2 separate regions of the Homo sapiens genome follow, and region 1 is linked to region 2. Evidence: fine-mapped expression QTL. Tissue or cell type: whole blood. Region 2 holds a variant in brackets; the other region holds the start of a gene. All regions are shown on one strand. Distances are from middle to middle. Region 1 holds the start of SLC9D1 (solute carrier family 9 member D1). Region 2 overlaps SLC9D1 (solute carrier family 9 member D1).

Region 1 (8,335 bases), 37 kb before region 2:
ATCACAGGAATGAACGCGAGATTCGAGAGCCTATCTTTTATCAAGCCAGACATTAAGATATTTGCAAAAATGTAATGGGTTTTTATTGCTAATTAACTATAGAAATATTTTAATACTATTTTAATTTCTAATATGGTCAATATTGATGACTATTACCCACACAAACAAGAACTCTCATTTAAGAATGACTGGGGTTCCAATCATTCTTAAAAACATATAGGAAATGTGCTACATATATACCATGGCATACTACATAGCCATAAAAAGGACCGAGATTGTGTCCTTTGCAGCAACATGGATGGAGCTGGAGGCCATTTTCCTAAGTGAACTGGCGCAGGAACAGAAAACCAAATGCCACATGTTCTCACTTGTAAGTGGGAGCTGAACACTGAGCAGGCGTGGACACAAAAAAGGACCAACAGACACCAGGGCCTGCTTGAGGGTGGCAGGAGGGAGAGGATCCCAAAACTACCCACCGGCTACTGTGCTTAGTACCTGGTTGACGACATAATCTGTACACCAACTCCCATGACACACAGTTGACCTTTATAACAAACCTGCACATGTACCCCTGAACCTAAAAGTTAGAAAACAAAAAACAAACCCAAAAACCACATCGAACTCCTGAGACTAAACACTTAAGAGAATGGCTAATTCAGGTGATGCTAGGCAATTAACATTTCGGCTACTCAAACAATGAGTGTTGAGCATTTGGGAGTCTTGGATCCCTTTTGGAATCTGAGGAGTCACAGGTCCGCCCTCCAGGAAAACATATATGGCCCTCACACGTGCAGGCAGCTTTGCATAAAATTTCAGGGGTTTCACAGATGGCTTAAGCCCATCTGCAAAGTCCTCACAAGGGGAAGGTAGAACTCAGATTAAGAACGGATGAAGAAGATCAGAAGCCTTCATTCAGCCAACTTTGTCTCTTAATGTTCCAGACAGCAGCCATCTCTGCCATCTCAGGCCTGTGGGTCTGTTGCCAAAGCAGACAGCCGTAGGCTGTGTTCCAATAAAACTCAATTTACAAAAACAGACAGCTAGCCTGTGGGCTGTAGTTTGCCGACCCCGATCTAGATTCTAGAGGAATAAATGGAATACATATTCACTACATTATTTCCTGAAACTGAGCTTTTGAAAAGAACTAAACAAAAAATTCAAGGTTGTATTCTCTGGTAAGATCAAATTTAGCTAAATTAAGGCAGATCCCATAGTCTCTGACCGTAAGCTGACAAAAGATACAGCTAGAGTCTTTTTATGAAGTTGACAGCCTTCCCAAGGGAGGGTGAGCAAAGCCAAGAATTACCTCAAAAACCTTAGGATAAAGACAGAAGTGCAGCCCCCAAAATGGTCCACCACCAGGAACAGCCATGACGCCCTTATTATGGAAGTGGTCATCGTTGCTAGATTTAAAAATCTGCCATGGTTATACAACAACATTTACTATATCCATATAACGGAACATAATTCGGCCATAAAAAGGAATGAAGTATTGATACATGCCACATGGATGAACTTTTGACACTGAGTAAAAGAAACCAGGCACAAGAAGCCACACAGTGTATGATTCCATCCACACAGCGCACGACTCCAGCTGCACAGTGTACGACTCCAGCCACAGTGCACGAGTCCAGCCACACGGTGCACGACTCCAGCCGCACAGTGCATGAGTCCAGCCGCACAGTGTGCGATTCCAGCCACACAGTGTACGATTTCACTTATATGAAATATCCAGAATGGGCACATCTATATAGAGAGAAAGGTGAGTGGTAGCCAGGGGCTGGGGCAAGGGAGGAGTTGGGAGTGACTGCTAATGGGTACAGTTATCGTTCGGGGTGACAAAAATGTTTTAGGACTAGATAGAGGTAGTGGTTCCACAAATTTGTGAACGTACTAAACACCACTGAATTGTACACTTTAAAATAGTTAATTTTATGTTATATGAATTTCACCTAAAAAAATTCAACATTGTACCCTCAGACCCTCCAAGACCAATCAGCAGACTAATATACTCTTCGGCGACTGAATTATTTAACCAGCATTATACAACTGATGACTCCACACCAGGAATGTGCAAATCTGGAAGATATGATGGTGTCTGATCTTGAGCTCCTGCCGATAACCCCTTGAAGCCTCCCCTAATGTGTGACAACACCATAACACCAGCAGCCTAATTTCTTGGAACTCTAGAAGAACAGATGCAGGAGCACATGGATCCAGGCCACTCAAAATGGCTTTGAATCACTACTGTTAGCTAGAGTGGACAGAAGTCGGTATCCAGAAACACGAAGAGCCCCCTGCAATCTACTCAAATTGTCTGATGTCACAAGATACTCCAGTAAACCCTGAACCACACGGTGGTGCCAAGGCACTGGTTCTGAAGGAGCAAGAGAAGCTTTGGGGTCTAGGCTTAGTCCATTAACAGGCCTCTGGTCAGTCAACAAAGCTGCAATCATTTGATGTCACCCCTTACAGGTTTCTCCATAAAATAACAGTGATTAAAGCAATGATCGATAGCTAAGTCTAAAGACTAGGTGCTTCATGTCCAAAAGTGACTGAGAGACCCAAGTTACCTCTTGTGAAAAAGGGAACTGGCATAAAGCTTCTTAGGAAACAAAAAGGCTCGTCAACTAAAAAACTACAGGGGAGAGAAGGAAGCCGAGTCCCTCTAGACAGGACTAAACCCAGATCAAATTTACAAAGGCCCAGACATTGGCAGTAAGCTTTGAGTGCACCAAGAGAGGACTGAACCCAGGTCAAATTAACAAAGGCCCAGACGTTGGCAAGAAGCTTCGAGTGCACCCAGACAGGACTGAACCCAGGTCAATCTAATCAAGGTGGATACACTGGAACTAGGGCCGCCCTTCAAGCTCACAACCTTCACTGAGGCTTACCACATCATGCAAATTAAATTATTAAGGCCAGCTTTTAAAGTGTGTACATGGGGTGGGGGGAAGGCATTTTCTAGGTTTCATTATTTCTGTTAAAATGTACACAATTCTTGAAATAAAAATCTGGACAATCCAGTGGAAACAGCAAATAAAATCTCTAAACTATAAAAAAGTCTCAAACACTTTAATTGTGACCTTGTGAAATACGACTCATATAATCTGGCACCAAGGATACCCATATGTAAAATGGAAAGAAATTACTCTTAAAATGTCCTTAGGGTCAACTTACCCGGGGCTGGCGGGCCAATCATGTTGATCGAATAAACTACGTAAGTTTATGGATCACTTTCACTCTGTTTCGGTATACAGCACGCTAGAGGGAGGGGGAGTTAAATTCATCCCTGCTCTTGGATCTCCAACCTCGGCAGCAGTGGAACGCTCCTCTCCAGCATCCTGAACATGTTCAAGTTTTCCCCAAACTAAGTTCCTGTCCACTCTGCCCCTGTCCTCCTAAAAGCTGGAGCAAGCTATCTCTACCTGCCCAGGTGTGCATCCTAACTCAGGCTACCTGGCTCCAGCCCGGCCTCCGCAGTGACCCCTAAAGGTCACAAAAGCTCGGCTGCTGCGGTCAGTGGGATCTTTTCAGCTGCTCTTTTGTTCAGCACTGCTGATGGCTCCCTCCTCCTTTAAACTCCATCCTCTTGGTTTCGACACATTCTAGTGTCCTGGTTTCTCCTACCAGCCCCCTCTCAGTCTCCTTTGTGGCTCTTCTCCCATCCTGAAGCTTGTCCTCACCCTCCACTCCCCTCTACACGTTACCGTGTCCCTTCTCCGGTGGCTCTCTGTGCCTTAGCCAGGACAATCTTTCAGCTCCTATACGTCATCATCGCCTACCACTAAGGGTCTGTGCATTCTGTTTCTTCTGCCTGGAGCCGCACACGGCTGGCTGCCCCGGAACCTCACTTTTTCTCTGGCTAATTTCCAGAGAAATTCTCCACAGTTCAACTCACACCCTCAGCATCTGACACCACTCCCACAGCCGCATCCTACAAGTTCCTGGAACCCGTGCCTTAGCCTTTGTCCCAACTGTGGTCAAACAATTGTGCATCTGGTGCCTGTCTCCCCTGCTGGGGCATCAACTCCCTCAACGCCAAGATCATGCCTGGCCCAGCACCAGTCACACCCAGCAGCACCTTGCTGGCCTCTGAACCGATGTGGACTGAATAAATCCCATCCATCACCATTTCCACCACATTTCAAAGTAACTGATGTGCACCTCCAGCAGCCTCCCTCCTGCGCTGCGGAACTCTACCAGCTCCACAGATGCACACCTACAGCCACGCTACAGCTCCCGGCTAGAGCCCGCGCTAGGGCCCCGCTGTGCCTCTCCCTCCCCTCCCGGCAGCAGGGCCTCCCCCGCGAATCTGAGCTTCTCGCGGATTCCTTCCTTGCGCTGTTTTGGTCAACAGCCTCAGCATCTGCACAGACGCCCGCAGGAGCAGCCGAGCCCTCGCCCGCCTCGACTGCCCGTTTCGAAGCCGCCCTGGGAAGCCCCCGGCCTGGGTTCCCGCTCGGCCCCGGCCCCTGCCCCAAGGCCCCTACAGTTCCTCCCGGCCCCCGCCCTCCGCTCACTCCCGGTCGTCCCTCGCGGCTCCGGGTCAAACCCGCGCTCCCCGCGGTCCCGCGCCTCCGACGCCACCGCTCCGGCTCGCGGGCCCGCGGCGCGTTCCTCCCTCGGATCCACGCGGAACGCCCCGCGCAGCTCGCTGGGCTCGGCCTCCCACATCCAGCGCGCCGCCTGCGCCGACCTTGGGGCCCGACCCCGACCCCGACCCCGACGGGCAGAGGCGACGCCGGGCCACCTACCATCTCCCCCGCGCCGCCCGCTTCTGGCCGGCCCCGGCCTTCTGCGCAGGCGCGGCGGCGGCTCCGCCCTCGTCCTCGGACGGCCGCGGCCCTCGGCTCCGGGGCAGTGCCGGGAGCCGGCCGCGGGGACTCCCACTCCCGGCATGCTCAGCGCCGCCCGGGGGCCCACGGGAGCTCGCGCCCCACAGCCCCTGCGCGTCCAGCCCTCTGCGAGGGCCTTGGCTCGCCCCTGCGGGGTCCAACGCCAGCCTGCGGCTGCCAGGCCCCACGCCGGCCAGGAAGTGCTCGCCGCCCGCGGCCGACGGGACCCGCCCACGCCCCGCCTCTTAAAGGGGGCAGTGACTGCGGCTGGGCGGGAGTCCGGGTCGGCTTGGCTGAGCGGGGGCGGTGCTGGGCAGGGCGGCGGCCGCTCCCTCCCGGACTCCCGGCCTCCCGGCCTCCCTGGTCCCGCCTGGGAAGGGATGCAAGGAAGCCCTCCGGCGCTGCGCTCCGAGGCGGGAGACAGCGTCCCCCTCCGCCCCTCGGGTCCTGGCGCCTCAGAGCCCGGCCCAGGCCGCGGAACGGTGATGCTCGGGCCGGACGGGCGGGCGCGGATCCCTGCGTCCCGGTGAGCACCAGGCCCGTCCATCCGGGGCTCTTTCCCGGGGTCCCCTTCCTTCCCTCCCTCCCTGGGGCTCCCCTCCCCTCTCTCCCTCCCCGGGGCTCACCTTCCCTTCTTCCCTTCCCAAGGGTCCCCTTCCTTCCTTCCCTCCCTCCCTGGGGCTCCCCTCTCTCCCTCCCCGGGGCTCCCATTCCCTTCTTCCCTTCCCAGGGGTCCCCTTCCTTCCTTCCCTCCCTCCCTGGGGCTCCCCTCCTCTCTCTCCCTCCCTGGGGCTCACCTCCCCTCTCTCTCTCCTCGGGGCTCCCCTTTTCTTGCAGGTATTGTCTCCCGGGGTCGGGTGGTCTGTGTGGCCTGGGGTCCCGCTCCTCCAGGCCTTGCCTAGGCGCTCTTCGCTGAGGCCCACGTTCTAACCTGGAATGGAACCTGCGTTCCCACCCTGGCCGCCCGGGTGGACTCGGGGCCTCCAGGGCCGGCCGCAGAGATGCAGCCCTGTCCCTGGCCCCCCTCCTGTGACTCCTAACGGCTCCTCACGGTGTCCATGACCCAGGGTGTGGACGCCTGCGCGGGGGAAGCAAGACCGCTGCGTATCGGGTCCCTATTCACTGCCTGTTTTTCTGATTATTCTGTCTTCCAAATTTATCTTATTTACCGGCTTTTTCAAAAGGAGTGTCTTAATGATTGGATTACTTGTGAAATATTTGTAGTTTTTTTCTCCTACAGGCTTGACTTAAATATTCTAAAGCTTTTTTGTGGTTGTTGAGACAGAGTTTTGCTGTCGCCCAGGCTGGAGTGCAGTGGCTGGTCAAGGCTCAAGCGATTCTCCCGCCTCAGCCTCCCCAGGAGCTGGGGCCACAGGGAGCATCACGCCCGGCTAATTATTTCATTTTTAATAGAGACAGGGTCTTGCTGTGTTGCCCAGGATGATCTCCAACTCCTGACCTCAAGCAGTTCGCCCACCTCAGCCTCCCAGAGCGCTGGGAATACAGATAATTGTGTCGTAATACAGCAGTGGCATTAACCACCGCACCTGGTCTTAGGTAGAATTTGAAAACCTTTTTATTTTGAGATGGTTGTAGATCACATGAAGTTGTAAGGAGTAATACAGAGAAATCCTACAGAGTGCCTTTGCCCTGTTTTCTCCAATGGTAGCACCTTGCAAAACCATAGTATATGTGGGGAATTTTCTTTGATCAAATCCCCTGACCTGTTGAGATTGCACCAACTATACATGCACTAGTGAGTGTGAATCTACACCTGTGTGTCTTCTCAATAAAATTGAGATTTTTTTTCACTCAGCCTTGAGATACATCCGCATTGTTATGTGTATCAATTGCTCAAGATGCAGAAATTCTAAGAATTCATTATTTAAAAAGTAATCCCAGCACTTTGGGAGGCTGAGGTGGGTGGATCACCTGAGGTCAGGAGTTTGAGACCAGCCTGGCCAACATGGCAAAACACCGTCTCTACTAAAAATACAAAAATTAGCTGGGTGTGGTGGCGAGCGCCTGTAATTCCAGCTACTTGGGAGGCTGAGGCAGGAGAATTGCTTGAACCCGGGAGGCAAAGGTTGCAGTGAGCTGAGATCACAACACTGCACTCCAGCCTGGGTGACAAGAGCAAAACTCCGTCTCAAACAGCAACAACAACAAAAAAAACACATTACAGGAATCCAAAGTGTCTTTTTAATAACTAGAACAGCTAAAGATGTTTACTAATTTGCTCAAAAAACATGCTACAATTTAGTAGTCAGTAGGATTTTGGAGGCAAGTTTGAAGATAAAATGAAATGAGTTTGAATAAAGGTGATTTGTATTTTAAGGGTCCATAAATAATTTCAGTTTCATGTTATGAGTATGTTTCAGTGGGAAATTTTAGTATAACTACAACTAAAATCCTCAAAGGTTTCTCATAAAAATTATAGCTCCCTTAGAGGGACAACTAATTTTAGGAACCTGATTGAGGAAGGAACCAGAAATGAACATAGAGGTGTCATTCACACATGAGCTGTGTTGAAACTTATTTTTCTGAAGCATAAAATCCATCAAAGAATCACTTTTTGGGATCTTTTGGGGAAACTGGGAAGTGTAAGCAAAGCATCTCAGATTTCTGTCTTGGTTCTGGAAAATACTAAAAGTTCACTTGTGAAGTAGCTGTTGATTTATTTAGCTCCGTTGGACCAACCGAGAGAAGCTTAGCAGTTGAGTGAGTCATTAAAATAACAGCTCAGCTATATGGCTAGGCATGACTAAGTGATTGCCTCATTGTTTGTTTTTAAGGTGGTAAATGTGTACTTAAAGTTGTACACGTGTACTTAAAGTTGTATTGAAACTAACATAAAATTGAGTGATTGGAACAGCACATTATCATTTATCCTATCTTGTTAGGAAGTTACCTGTTCTAGGTAAGTGAATTCTCTGTGGAGTGTGCTTCTCCTTTTGGGAGTCAGTCTCCAAGAATGTTTTGAATTGAACACTTTCTAACCAGAATATAGTCTTTTCTTGGTGACTTTTGCTTGTAATTCTGATCAGTACTGTTGTCTAACACAGTACTGTCTTCAGGACCTGCTGGGGTGCAGACAGTCGCTGAGCCTTCACCGAGTCATCTGGCCTCCAGGCTTTTTTAGTTCTCCTGTTTGTTTTGCATAAGGTTTGTCTCTTTCTGTGGCTGCCATTTCATGGTTTGGGCAGAATGCTGCCTCCAGAAATGCTGCCCTTACTTTTGCTGCATCTAACCTACTTTGCCTGGGAAACTCGATTAAACCAATTAGAATTTGGGTTAGCAGTGAAATGAAAGTATAGATATATAGATACATCTTTTAGTAACCAGGTTTCCAGGTCGGGGAATCTTTGTAATATGTGATGGTTGAGTAGGAATTCCTGAGTAACAGTCCATTGGATGCTGCTATGAAGAATGGTTAGGTTAATATTTTGTTGTTGTTTACTTTAAACTGTAAATCTGCGTAAGTGGTAGGTGTTGGT
Region 2 (8,335 bases):
GCCTTGCATACCTGGGATAATTCCCCGTTGGTTTAGGTATATAATTATTTTTATACATTGCTGCCTTCAGTTTGCTAATTTATTGAGGATTTTGGGGTCTAACTTCATGAGAGATATTGGTGTGTAGTTCTCTCTTTTTTTTTTTGATACTCTTTGGGTTTTGGTAATAAAAGTCATACTAGGTTCACAAAATGTTTTGGGAAGTGTTCCTTTCTTTTTATTTTCTGGAAAACATTGTATAAAATTGATGTCAGTTCTTCCTTAATATTTGGTAGAATTCTGCAGTAAAACCCTCTGGGTCATGAGATTTCCTTTTGGGGAGTTTTCTTACAAATTTAATTTGCTTAATAGTCACAGTAGATATTCAGAATATCTACTTCATATTGTTGAGTTGTGGTAGCTTAGCTTTTTGAGGAATTGTTCCACTCTGTCTCAGTTGTCAGATTTATATATACAGAGTTTTTGTGTTGTATTCCTTTATCATTCTTTTGATGTCCACAGGGTCTGTAGTGATATCTTCTGTTTCATTGCTTATGTTGATAACTTGCATCATCTTTGTCTAGGGATTTGGCAATTGTATTAATCTTTCCAAAGAATTCGTTCCTTGTTTTATTGATTTTCTTTATTTTGTTGTTGTTTTCAATTTCATTAGTTTCTACCCTCACCTTCCTTCTTGCTTTGGGTTTATTTTACTTTTCTTTTTCTAGGTTCTTATGGTTTAACTTAGATTATTGATTTTAAACTTCTCATCTTTTCTACTGTAAGCATTTACTGCTGTAAATTTCCCTCTCAGCACTGTTTTAGCCGCATCTCATATTTTGATATGTTGTATTTTTATTTTCATTTTGTTCAATGAGTTTTAAAAATTTACTTTGATACTTCTTTGACTCATGGATTGTTTAGAAGTGTTGCTTAATTTCCATACATCTGGAGATTTTCCTGATGTCTTTCTGTTACTGATTTGTAGTTTGAGTCCACTGTGGCGCGAGAACATTTTGTATGATTTCAGTTCTTCTACATTTGTTGAGGTTTGTTTTATGGCCAGTGATACTGTCTGTGGTAAATGCTCCAAAGTCACTTGGGAGGAAAAAAAAGTGTATTCTGTTATTGTTGAGTGGAGTTTTTTTTAATATATGTCAGTCAGTTAACTGCGCTATTTCGTGTTCTTGCTGTAGTTGTATCAGTTGTTGAGGGAGATGGTATTGAAGTCCCCCGTTAGAATTGGATATTTGTCTGTTTCTCCTTTGAGTTCAATCAGCTTTTGCTCTATGTATTTTGGGGCTCTTTTGTTTGGTACATACACATTTAGGATCATTTTGTCTTCCTGGTGAATTGATCTTGTTATCATTATGTAATATTTCTTTTTTTGTTGTTTTTCGAGACATAGTCTTGCTCTGTTGCCCAGGCTGGAATGCAGTGGCGTGATCTCGGCTCCTGCCTCCTGGGTTCTAGTGATTCTCGTGCCTCAGCCTCCTGAGTAGCTGGGATTACAGGCGTGTGCCACCACACCTGGCTAATTTTTGTATTTTTTAGTAGAGACAAGGTTTCGCCATGTTGGCCGGGCCAGTCTCAAACTCCTGGCCTCAAGTGATCTTCCAGCCTCGGCCTCCCAAAGTGCTGGGATTACAGGTGTGAGCCACTGTGCCTGGCCATATTTCTTTTGTTTCTAGTAATTTTCCTTGCCGTGTAATTCACTTTATCTGATATTAAAATAATATTATTTTTTTTTTTGGTCAATGTCTGCAATGGTGTATCCTTTTCATACTTTTCCTTTCAACTTATGCCCTTGTATTTGAAGTGAGTTTCTTGTGGAGAACATATTGTTGGATGATTTTTTTAAATCCACTCAGCCAGTCTCTGTATTTTAATTGGTATGTTTAGACCATTTACATATCAGGTAAATATTGATATGTTGCAACTTAAGTCTGCATTTTATTTGTTTTTTGTCTCGTTACTCTTTTTCTTTTACATCTCTGTGGGTTGACTGCGTGTTTTCAGGGATTCTGTTTAGGCTCATTTATAATGTTTTGAGTGTATTGCTCTGTGTGGTTTTCCTGGTTGCTCTGGGTATCACAGTGGACACATGTAACTTATCACTGTTTGCTGGAATCCACGTTTTACCACTTCATGTGAAATGTAGAAGCCTTATTTCCACTTAGCTCCCTCCCCCTGCCCACATGTTAAATAGTCACGCGCTGCATAATGACATTTTGGTCAGTGATGGGCCACCTGTACAGCAGTGGTCGGGTGGGATTCTCTGGACCTGAACAATTCCTGTTGCCTAGTGAGGTTGCAGCCCTTGTAACGTCACAGGGCAGTGTAATGCCCCCATGCTTGTGGTGATGCTGGCACGAACAAACCTGCTGCACTGCCAATCATATAAAAGGCTCACACACCCAATTAGGCATGGTACGGAATACTTGATAACGACAATAAATCACTGTTACTGGTTTATGTATTTACTATACTTTTTATCGTTAGAGTGTACTCCTTCTACTTATAAAGAGAAGTAGAACTGTCAAAACAGCCTCAGGCAGGTTCTTCAGGAGCTATTCTAGAACAAGCCATCATCATCATAGGAGACGACAGCTCTGTGCCGGTTATTCTAGAACAAGCCATCGTCATCATAGCAGACGACAGCTCTGTGCCTGTTATTCTAGAACAAGCCATCGTCATCATAGGAGACGACAGCTCTGTGCCTGTTATTCTAGAACAAGCCATCGTCATCGTAGGAGACGACAGCTCTGTGCCGGTTATTCTAGAACAAGCCATCGTCGTCGTAGGAGAGGACAGCTCTGTGCCGGTTATTCTAGAACAAGCCATCGTCGTCGTAGGAGACGACAGCTCTGTGCCTGTTATTCTAGAACAAGCCATCGTCGTCGTAGGAGACGACAGCTCTGTGCCGGTTATTCTAGAACAAGCCGTCGTCGTCGTAGGAGACGACAGCTCTGTGCCGGTTATTCTAGAACAAGCCGTCGTCGTCGTAGGAGACGACAGCTCTGTGCCGGTTATTCTAGAAGAAGCCGTCGTCGTCGTAGGAGACGACAGCTATGTGCCGGTTATTCTAGAACAAGCCGTCGTCGTCGTAGGAGACGACAGCTCTGTGCCGGTTATTCCACCTGAAGACCTTGCAGTGGGACAGGATGCGGACGTGGAAGACAGCGACACTGATGGTCCTGACCCTGTGCGGGTTTAGGCTAATGTGTGTTTGTGTCTTAGTTTTTAACCAAAAAGTTTAAAAAGTTAAAAAAAATTAAAATAGAAAAAAACGTATAGAATAAATAAGAAGAAAGAAAATATTTTTTGTACAGCCATACAGTTTCTGTTTTAAGTGTCATTACAAAAGAGTCAAAAAGTTTTTAAAAACCTTAAAGTTTATAAAGTTAAAAAGTTACAGTAAGTTAAGGTTAATACTGAAGAAAGAAAAATATTTTTAATAAACTCAGCACAGTTGGCCAGGTGTGGTGGCTCACACCTGTAATCCTAGTCTTTGGGAGGCCAAGGCGGGAGGATTGCTTGAGTTTAGGAGTTCAAGACCAGCCTGGGCAACATAGCAAGACCTCATCTCTACCAAAAAAAAAAAAATTAGCCAGGCGTGGTGGCGCACACCCATAGTCCCAGCTACTCTGGAGGCGAAGGCTGTAGGATTGCTTGAGCCTGGGAGATAAAGGCTGCAGTGAGCTGTGATCATACCGCTGCTCTCCAGCCTGGACAACACAGTGAGACACTGTCTCAGTTTAGTGTAGCCTGAGTGTACAGCGCCTGTGGCGTCTGCCGTGGTTTACAGTAGTGTCCAAGGCTCTCACATTCACTCACCCTCACTCCCTGACTCACTCAGAGCAACCTCCAGTCCTGCAAGCGCCCTGTACAGGTGTGCCATTTTTACCTTTGATGCTATACTTTCAGTGTGTATTTTCTGTGTTTAGATATGCAAATACTTATCATTGTGTTACAGTTGGCTGCAGTATTAAGTGCAGTCACGTGCTGTGCAGGTGTGTGGTCCAGGAGCAGGAGGCAGTGCCAGGCGGCCTGGGTGGGTCTGGGTTTGTGTAAATGCACTCTGGAATGTCTGCACAATGATGAAATTGCCTTATGATGCTTCTCAGAATGTGTCCCCATTGTGAAGTGGCACATGACTGTATAATTGTTGTCTTTTCTCTTCTTTTATTGAATACCACAGCAGATGGTGTTGTAAT[G/T]TTTACTGCAGACATCAAATACGATTTTGAAAACTCAGGAGGAAAAGGATAATCTCTTCTTCTCATACCTGTTTTTACCCATTCTGGTGTTCTTCTTTCCCTTCTGATGTTCCCATCTATCTTCTGTAATCATTTCCTCTCTGTGTAGAGAACTTTCTTTGGTCATTCTTTCATGGTTAATCTGCTGGCCACAAATTCTCTAAGTTTTTCTTCGTCTGGGAATGGCCTTTGTCCCCGCGTCACTCCGAGGGCATCTCACGGGATGTGGATTTCCAGGTGGTGGCTCTCCTCATCCAGTGCCTGGGAAGCGCGTGTCCCTGCCCCCGGCTTCTGTGTTCCAGCTATGAAACCTGCTGCTGTTTAGACTTGTGCTTCTCTCGAAGGAATGAGGGGTTTCTCTCTGGCAGCTTTCAAGGTTTTTTTCTCTGTCTTTAGTTTTCAGAAATTGTATTACCATACATCCTGGAGCAGATTTCTCTGGGTTTGTTCTATTTGGATTCAGTTGGCTTCTCGCATCTGTGGGTTTATGTCTCTTGGCTAACAGGAAGTTTTCAGCCATCATTTCCTCACATCCTTTTTCAGTCCACTTGTTCTCTCCTGCGATTGCGGAAACTTAGAAATCTGCTCTTTGGTTAGGGTCCTGCGGGTCTCTGAGGCCTTGACCGTCCTCGGTCCGTTTCTGTGTGTTCAGGCAGATGAATTCTGTCTGTCCTCGGGGTCACCGGTTCTGCCCTCTCTCGTCTCCACTCTGCCACTTAGCCCATCCCCAGAGATTTTTATTATGACTGTATTTTTTTAGTTGTATAATTTCCACTTACTTCTTTTATGTAGCCTTTATTTCTTGGCTGAGATTTTCTATTTTTTATTTGTTTACAGAGAGTGTTTGTGGCCTTTTGAAGCGTTTTAGTCATGGCTGCTTTAACACCCTCATCAGATAACTCCAGTATCCGTTCGTCTCGATGTGAAGTCTGGCGCTTGTCTTTTCTCCTTCAAGTTGTGATTTTCCCGATTCTTAATATGATGAGCGACTTTTCGTTGTATCCTGGGTGGTTCGTGTGTTTATTAGGAGGCTTTAAACCAGTGACTCCCCTGGGGAGGGTGGTGTGAGGCCTGGCCAGGGGGTTCTGCTTCCTGCCAGGCCTCCAGCCCCACCCCGGCCCAAACAGCTGGCAAGCGCTTCCTCATGGCAGGCGGTGGGGTGGAAGAATTTTTTAGTATTTGCCTTTTGCCAGATCTTCTGTTACATCTTCCCTGCTGTCGGTAGCTCAGCCAGGCAGGCAGGAAAGTAGAAGGAATGAAGGGCTGTTTACCTGGGTTTTCCAGAGGTTCAGCCCAGGCTAGAGCCCCAGCTTGGCCATGCTCTGGCCGTGCAAGCCCTGGCAGCTTTCTGTGAATTGGGGAGGACGTGGGAACAGTGCCTACCTGGTGGACCGTGGGAAGACTGAAAGAGAAAACCAGGCAGGGCACTTAGTGCAGCCGCTGGTGGAGGCAGTGGTTAGAGTTCACTCGCTAGAGGGTCCTTGTGATAAGAGGGTCCTTATGATAAGAGGGTCCTTATGATAAGAGGGTCCTTATCATGGCCATTTTCCTTTGATCCAGATGTCTTTAAATATCAGAAAAATAACGCTTTTAGTCCCAACCGCCACATCGGAATCAGTTCTTATTCCTTCTGGCTACAATGTCCAACATAAGTTGAACAACATAATTTGGACAACAGAAGGAAGGGTTGTCATGCTAGCCGGAGATGACTTCTAGTTAAGAGGTCTGAGCATTTTCCACGCACAACCAGTTATTCTCAACGGAGGGCGGACTCTCCATACGAAACAAGCAGAGCCCTGGCAGAGACTGCAGGGCATTTGTAAAACTCAAACACCACGTTGATCTCACTGCCACGTTCTTTCCAGTTACACGCAGGTCTAACATGCTGGCATAAGACATTGTCTTAATCAGAACACTTTTAAAGCTTTTTTTTCCCTTTTTTCCAATTCAAAAAATTAATGCAGTACAGGTATTGATCCCACCGAAATTGTTCTAATTCAGTCATGACACTTCATGTTTACAAAGAGTTGATGACTTGGAAAAATACTCTGTAATGCTGTTAAACTTAAGAAACAGAATCGGGCCGGGTGCAGCGGCTCACGCTGTCATCCCAGCGCTTTGGGAGGCTGAGGCAGGAAGATGGCTTGAGAGCCGGGCGCAGCGGCTTCCGCCTGTCATCCTAGCGCTTTGGGAGGCTGAGGGGGGCGGATCACGAGGTCAGGAGATCGAGACCATCCTGGCTAACACGGTGAAACCCCGTCTCTACTAAAAATACAAAAAATTAGCCAGGCATGGTGGCACGTGCCTGTATTCCCAGCTACTCGGGAGGCTGAGGCAGGAGAATCACTTGAACCCAGGAGGCAGAGGTTGCAGTGAGCTGAGATCACGACACTGCACTCCAGCTTGGGCGACAGAGCAAGACTCTATCTCAAAAAAAAAAAACAAAAGAAACAGAAACAGAGTCAGAATTGTAGACCACGTTCCTCCTGACGCTAACACAGAGCTCCCATTTGACCCAGCTGTTCGCTCCTCGGTATTTACCCGCAAGAAACAAAAACACACATCCACATTCAGACTGATACACGGTGGTGATGGGGGTACAACAGTGTGAATCCACCTGATACCACAGAGTTACACACTCAGAAATGGTTAACATGGTACATTTTATTGTATGAGAGTTTCACCACAATGAAAAACTTGTACCTGAATGTTCAAGCAGCATTATTCGTATAGTTAAAAAGTATTAAGAACTCAAATGTCAATTAGATAACAGGTAGATATACAAAACATACTATATTCAGCAAAGGAATATTATTCAGCCATAATATAGAATGAACATTGATTCATCCTATAGCACAGATGAAGCACGATGCTTCTGAAAGAACCGGACAAAAAGTCCACACGCTGTGTGATTCCATTCATACCAACGTCCAGACTAGGCCAGTCCGTACAGACAGGATGAATTACTGGTTGCCGGAGGGTGGGGAGGTTGGGGGAGATGGGGAGGAAGTGCTGATGGGTACAGGGTTTCTTTTTGGGATGATGAAAGTATTCTAACATGGATTGTGGTAATAGTTGTGTAATTTTGTGAATATGCTGGAAACCATTGAATTGTATACTTTAAATGGGTAAGTTGTATGGTAAGTGAATTATATATCATAGCTGTTAAAAATATATACGATATTTTAATTAGACATAGAAGAACATGAATAGAGACTAGAAATATATATATGTATATATAACAAGGTGTTAATGATTTTCTACTAGTAGACTGGTAGATTTGTACTAAGTTTTTTCTACTATATATACTTTTCTGTAATTTAGGAAAACCTCCCTTTCAATTTTAATAACGAGGGAAAATTTATATTTAAAATATCAAAGAAATAAAATTAGTTGCAACATAATAGACTCTGCTTTCTTATTAAGCTTTATTCAGAATTAACCTTGATCATTCCTAGAGGAAAGAACTCTTTCCCTCAAAATATTTCACAGGTAAAGAACAGAACACAGAAGGCTGTAATAAAGCAAAACAGATGTTTATGCCCATATTAAAGACAGAGGCTTATGTTTCTTATTTTATAAAGGTCTCCTATACCTTAATAAGAAAAATATGAATAACTGAGTTTGAAAACAGGTCAGCAGCAAAGCAGCTATTAGACTTGAGTAAAGTAGGAAACACCCACCCTCACACCAAAGAAGGGTGATGGCACCACCCGCCCATCAGACTGGGCACCATTAGAAGCTGGGTGGTGCCCAGGTTGGGAAGTGGGGTACCTTGGGCATCATTGTTGGGATGGGAATTGGAGCAACTTCCTGGCGGCCCACCAGACAGCACCTGTCATAGTGGGAGGCACCCGGCTCCCTTAGTGAGCACCCACTGCCACCATCAGTGGACCCACAGGCTCCTTGGTCACCGCAGCGCCCAAGAACCAGGATGGCCGTGGAGTCAGTGTGAGAACCGGGACAGCCCTTGCATCTGGCTGAGCAAATGATGGTGCGTCCCGCCAGGGAGCCCTTCCTCACCTGTCCGCTGGCCAGACATGCTGATGGGAAGCTTGTCCACTCACCTGTCCGCGGGCCAGACGTGCTGATGGGAAGCT

The links.
Region 1: it holds the start of SLC9D1, and the variant in region 2 is fine-mapped to the expression of SLC9D1 in whole blood (INTERVAL, PIP 0.94).

What each region holds. Positions count from the first base shown.
Region 1 is chr13:113,485,910-113,494,244 of GRCh38, forward strand. SLC9D1 (solute carrier family 9 member D1) reads left to right here and starts at 5,112. Exons shown (of 13, transcript NM_017905.6): 1 at 5,112-5,364. DCUN1D2 (defective in cullin neddylation 1 domain containing 2) reads right to left here and starts at 4,802. Exons shown (of 7, transcript NM_001014283.2): 1 at 4,758-4,802. The coding sequence starts at 4,760. RefSeq lists an enhancer at 3,973-4,272 and a silencer at 4,503-5,422.
Region 2 is chr13:113,522,985-113,531,319 of GRCh38, forward strand. All of the region lies in intron 8 of SLC9D1 (solute carrier family 9 member D1), which reads left to right. Among named protein-coding and RNA genes, the nearest start is that of SLC9D1, 36 kb to the left of the region's middle. The variant G/T (reference allele first, on the strand shown) is at 4,197.